2 separate regions of the Homo sapiens genome follow, and region 1 is linked to region 2. The links come from fine-mapping of genetic effects on gene expression. A gene starts in region 2. The other region holds a variant in brackets. All regions are shown on one strand. Distances are from middle to middle.

Region 1 (2,913 bases), 68 kb after region 2:
AAACCTCTCAAGGTAAGATCCCAAGAGAGAAATTGAACTCAAAATATTAACTAAGTGTTGAATGGCTAAATCACTCCTTATGGCTTGGGAAGGGGACAGCACAGCTCTTTAAATGTCCATCCATGCAACTAATCGAAGTTCACCATCACTGTTGTCAGAAGGGTAAACATTCCAACCTAGACCCTTCCTGCTGCAACATGACCTTCCATCAGCCAGTGAAAGCTCTTGCTGGGTCAGGTGAAGGTCTTTGCCTAACAGGGCCTCAGACCAGGCGAAGATTATGTTTCTTTCATATGGTATACTTACACTGGGGTGAAACAGAGACAGAGATTCATACTGTTTATCCAATTTCTTATCCTAGAAAGAAACAGCAAGAAGGTCATTCCCTACAAATACAATTCAGTTAGTGAGTACTATTTCATCACAGGCTATTCCTAACACTAACTGAAGAACTTAGAACCTGAGTTGTAGAAAGTGATAGCAGGCTCAACAGATGACAATCCATTTCTCACCCAAGCTTTAGTTATGCCACCAGTCTAGAAGTGTTTCCTTTGCACTCAAAGGAAATACATTTTGGCGTTAAGTACAGAAAGAGGCAAGGTTTAAGTGCTATGTTTTCTGAGAAATTTATCCCTCTGTGGGCAGGGGAATAATAAAGGCATCTTCCTGTGCATGAAATGACAAATGTCCCAGATGCTGGGTACACCAGGACCGCACTGACTGGAAGGGCAACTGGTAGGAAGACCCAGGTGGCTGGGCCTGCAGCATTCTTCGCACTGCCCCGGCCCATGGCCTCACTCTCTTAGCTGTCTCCACAGTTTCTGTGGACCATGCTCTGCTGGAGGAACTGGGCCTCAATCCCTACATCCTACTTCTGCAGAAGGCTAACCACATGGCCATCTGCTGCCCCATCCCTGCCTGTGGCTGAAGCATAATAGGTGACAGAGGGCAAGGACCAAGAATCCAGGACTAGGCTTCCTGTCTGGGTGCCATCAATGCATTCTATGACCAAAAACAAGCCATGGCCCTCCCTCCTATCGGAGGCTTTGCTCTGAAATCAAGGGTCGTGCCTTGTCCACATGTGCAACTTCCCTGTAAACAAAATAGGTTCCATCCTCCAATAGAAGCAATCGTGATGGATGGCACTGTCATCCAGAGACATCTGTCAAAGCTTCAAGCACGTCACCTTCAGCTTTCTTCAGCACAAGTGCTCCCTAGAGATCTTCCTATACCCATCATGCTCACCACCCTGAGGAAGAGCTGCTCTGTGAGATGGCCCCTAGGCAGGAGAAGCCAGCAGGAAAGGAAAGGAAGGAGGCAGTAGGAAAAACTCCTTTGTCATCAGAGTTGTGCTGGAATTTTTAAATGCTCATAGGAAGGCCACTATGAAAGAGTTTGGGAAAACAAGTCTGGAAGCCTGGGTGTGACTTTCTCATCTCTACAGCAGACAAATCCCCATTCCCCACAGATGCAAGTGAATGGATTCGTAAGAACATTTATGAAAAAGGGCCTCAAATTTATAAAGGACCAGGAGTTCCTTAGTCAAAGCCCAATTCAACTTGTAGCTGTTACTGATTCTGAATGAGAACAGAAAAGACTGCTTACTCTTATTTTTTGGGGAAGATGTAAATACTCTATATGACAGCTGGGCCCCAGTCCCTACATCCTATTTGTGCAGAAGGCTGAAGACATAGCCATCTGCTGCCAATAATCTACATGATATATGGGGAACATCTGAAATGCCGATGTTTGATATTTGCTCTATTGCAACGAAGTCAGCCTGAAAATGCTCTTCAAT[A/G]AGGGCTTTACTCATCAAAGGACCTGGACAAATCCAGTTAAACAGTCTCCTATGCTTAAAAGTATAAAATTCCTAAGAAATTTATATATTAAAACACCAACACACAAAAATAGTATTTTTTTTAAAAGACCATTAGTTAAGCTTTCTACAAGACATGTTCCCCTAGGAATAACAACAAAAAAAGCTATTGGAAATATCAGGCCAAACTTTGCTAAGAACAAGTTTTACCTTTTCCAGAGATTACATGGTTGGAGTTGATCAAAATTTAAATAAAACATTTAATTACTTAAAAGTTGATGACTTACCACACAATGGACAAGAATGCTGAAAGGAATCCAAAATATCAAGGAGAAAACCAGGACAGACCCAACGATGTTGTCTGCTAAAAACTTTCCTGTGAACAATTCCAAACAGTTAATGTCTTGACCAAGTACTTCACAAATCTAAAGTGAAATGCTCTTAGGATATTACCATTGTGTCAAATGCCAGAGCTGCTGGCTAGACATACTACCGAGAGCAGAATGTCTGTGCTGCCTGTATTACACCACACCATCTCTCCATACCAAGTGCTTTTAAAGAAATAGCCCTCATATACTGGCTGACAGGAAGAGATTGCAGAATATTCAACATGTTACCTGGAGTAGCTGTGTCAACAGATTAATATGGAATGCTACTACTAGTAAATGCTTAAGAAGACAAAGTTTTTGTTACCTGGATATTATTTTTGTGATTAAATTATGGACTCGTGACAACATGATATACCCTGCTTCTGCAAAATATGAGGCTCACTTTTACATCAAGCAGGATTCAGTATATAGCATTCAGTCAAATAAACACTCTTACATCAATCAGGATTCAGTCTATAGCATTAAACTATGCTTATGCTAATCACATGGATATTTTTGGGTAAAGAAGGAAGCCAGTATTTTGACTTTATTTCCCTTGTCAGAAAATCTGTGCATCCAAGCTCCACGGGGACAGACTATCTATGAGTTCATTTTATTCTAGCCAACAAAGTTGTTTCATAACTAAAGCTGTGAATAGTTCCACCTTCTACTGCAGAATTAAAGCACATCACTCTGAAAGCACACTTTTCTAATGTCATCACAGAAATT
Region 2 (2,860 bases):
ACCCCCTGATCACAGCGCCACGATCTGCTGTGGTCTCTGATCTCACTCTCCCAGCTGCACGCTGGTCAAAGGCGGAGCTCGGTGACTCCTCTGCATTGCCAGGGCGCCTGGCAGGGGACGCGCTTACTGAAGCCGAGAACTTTCTGGGGAGGTGACACCCCAACAGCGATTCCCATGTACCAAACGCCTACCACGTGCCATGCACGGTGCTAGGTGCACAGATCCCTCTCACCCTCACCCTCACCGACCAGCAAGGCTGCAGGATAACAGCCCCTTTCAAACGAGGATGCCAAAGCGCCCGAAGAGTCAGTGACCTGCCCAGGGTCACCAGAGTAAGGACGGATGCGGCCAAGCTCGGGGCCTAGGGAGAGCCGGCTCCGAAGTTCCTCCCAGACGCCAGCCTGCTTGGCACCTGTCTGTCACCGTGATGGAGCACCTTCCAAGCGCTGGGTGCGGAGGATGTGACAGCGAAGGGGACAGACAACCCCGACCCTGAGAGGCGGGAGGCGGCCGAAGCGGGGCAGAGGAAGAGGCAAGGAAACGGCCCGCGGCCGCCCGCCTTGCCGCCCCTCCGGGGCGACAGCGGCTCGGGAAGCTGCAGTCCGCAAGCCCACGCCCGATCTGCGTGGTTCCAAGCTCCTCCACCCGCGCCCCGGGAGCGCGGCCCCGCCCGGAACCAAGCCCGAGCCCAGGCATCCCTCCTCCGCCCGCCCCGCGGCCCCACCCATCCTTCCTGGCCGTCCGCGCCGCTCTCGGGACCGTGTTCCCGTCAGGCCTCCGCGAGCTCGGCCCCAAGCGGGACGAGGGCTGGGCGCTCACCTCGCAGCCGCGGGCCCATCCCCGGGTTGCGGACTTCGGGGTCCGCGTGGGAGTGCCGCGGCCTTTGGCGCCCAGGCAGCTACTCCCGTTCCCGCTCCAGCGCCGGCTTTTCCAGCCCTCCTGCCCACGTCCGCCGGGCCGCGCCTCCAAGACTATGCGCAGGCGCAGTCCTGACGTCCTACCCCCGGTTCCAAGACCCCAAGTGGTGGGAAGCCTCGCGAGCGGCGTCCCCCGACCGGAAGTCGAGGGGAGGAGTCTAGTGCCGCGGGCTCCGGAGTGACGGAAGTTGTGCTCTTGGTGAATGGGGTTCTTCCTTTTTTATTTACCGGTGGCTGTGCTTCCAATTTAGGAAGACCCCGGCGACCTGTTCCTCACCCCCGCTTCGCCCTCACACTTTCGGGATGTCTGCGATTCCTGCTGAGGAGAGCGACCAGCTGCTGATCCGACCCCTGTAAGGGACCAGCGAGAGAGGGAATGAAGCCACGGGCTGTGAGGGGCGCGAGGGGTAACCGGAGACTGGCCTCCTCCGTCGCCCGCGCTCCCACCTACCCCGGCAGCCTGCCTTTGGTCCGCGCTTGCGGGCCAGGCTTCTCAGGCTCGAGGGGTTGGAGGACCGTTGATCGGAAGGGGCCTGCTATAGAGTGAACGGGATTTTGCTTTTTCATCAGTTTCAGGGGAGGGTATGTTGGAGTCGGAAAAAAAAAAGTTTTACGGGGCCACCGCTCGCTTTCGTACACGCTAAGAAGCGTTTTCACTTAGCACAAGCACGGATCTCTGCGCGTCAGGGCAAGCTGTGAGGGAGCCGGTGAAGCTTATGACCGACAGGATGAGAGGAGGACCTGAATGAGGCTACAGCCGTGCAGGGAAGAATTAAGTCTGTTTCTTAACACCAGGGCTTCACATGTGCCAGAAGTTAGAAAATATTAGGGACTTGCCGTGAGTTTCGATCTTCTCAGCTCAGGCCCTAGTAGAATAAGGAAGGTGTAAAGCTGGAGAAGAGAAAGTGCAGAGGTGTTAGGGACAAAAACTCAGCCCTCGACTGTCCATAAGGAGAGTGGCCTTTCAGTGGACACGATCCTCATCAGTCGGGAATGCTGCTGAAGGGGAGATGCAAATGTAGAGAACTTGAATTCCTACAGATGAGCATTTCGAACCCACAACATGTTTATTGTTAGATACTAGTTGGCACAACATGAATATACGCTTTCCAAAAGGTAGAAAGTATCTCCTTTACACAATCATTCAGTAAGGCTTCATTGAGCACCTGCTTGGGACATAGTCCGTTTCCTTCTGCTTAGTTCACACCTGTCATGTCTTCCTGTGATGAGCAAACACTGAGCAAGTGTCAAGCACCACACATGGGGATATAGACGCAACAGAGGGCCCAGTTAATTGCTCTCGCTCTTTTGGAGAGAATTACAGTGCACAGTGGGAAATATTGGAGAGATACTTTGGAATAATAGGAGACTATTACTTTGAAGTCAGACCTGAAGTCCATTATCTACTTGACCAATTAGTAGGACAACAATCTCACTGAACCCGTTTTCTCATATGGAAATAAGATAAAACTTGAAGAGTGAACATCGCGGTAGGTGCTTTGTAAATAATAGCTAATCTAAGAACGCAGGCAGGCATTGCACTGAGCACTGTGAAAGTATGGAAAAGGGATTTCTGACAGATTGAGGAAAAAAGGATACCTCGTGGATCCTGAAAAATGTGATGCCTGAGCTGAGTCCTAAAGAATGAGTAGGAGTTAAAGACTGGGGGGCCCAGGATGTTCTAGGCAGTGGAAGTGGCACATATGAAAGTGAGAGTGGTCACAGCTTGTGGCCAGATTCCTCATGGCTGTAGCTAAAGAGTTGAGTTAGCAGATGAAGCGACAGGCAGTTGAGGTCCAGTTTAGGAAGCACCTCGTATACACAGGAGTTTGGACCTTTATCAAGTCAATTACAGGGAGCCAGCGAAGGCTATTAAGCAAGCATGGATATTGTGGGAATTATGTTTTAGGAAAATCTCTCCTGGCAGCAGTGTAGCAGATGAA

Evidence for each region.
Region 1: its variant is fine-mapped to the expression of ITGB1BP1 in whole blood (TOPMed, PIP above 0.99).

The regions. Positions count from the first base shown.
Region 1 is chr2:9,490,795-9,493,707 of GRCh38, forward strand. It overlaps ADAM17 (ADAM metallopeptidase domain 17), which reads right to left. Exons shown (of 19, transcript NM_003183.6): 17 at 2,104-2,192; 18 at 307-357. It also overlaps a transcript of IAH1 not described here. Among named protein-coding and RNA genes, the nearest start is that of IAH1, 18 kb to the left of the region's middle. The variant A/G (reference allele first, on the strand shown) is at 1,799.
Region 2 is chr2:9,422,554-9,425,413 of GRCh38, forward strand. ITGB1BP1 (integrin subunit beta 1 binding protein 1) reads right to left here and starts at 975. Exons shown (of 7, transcript NM_004763.5): 1 at 820-975. It overlaps CPSF3 (cleavage and polyadenylation specific factor 3), which reads left to right and starts at 1,101. Exons shown (of 18, transcript NM_016207.4): 1 at 1,101-1,270. The coding sequence starts at 1,221. RefSeq lists enhancers at 1-284, 278-327, 1,198-1,247, 1,288-1,337 and a silencer at 468-767.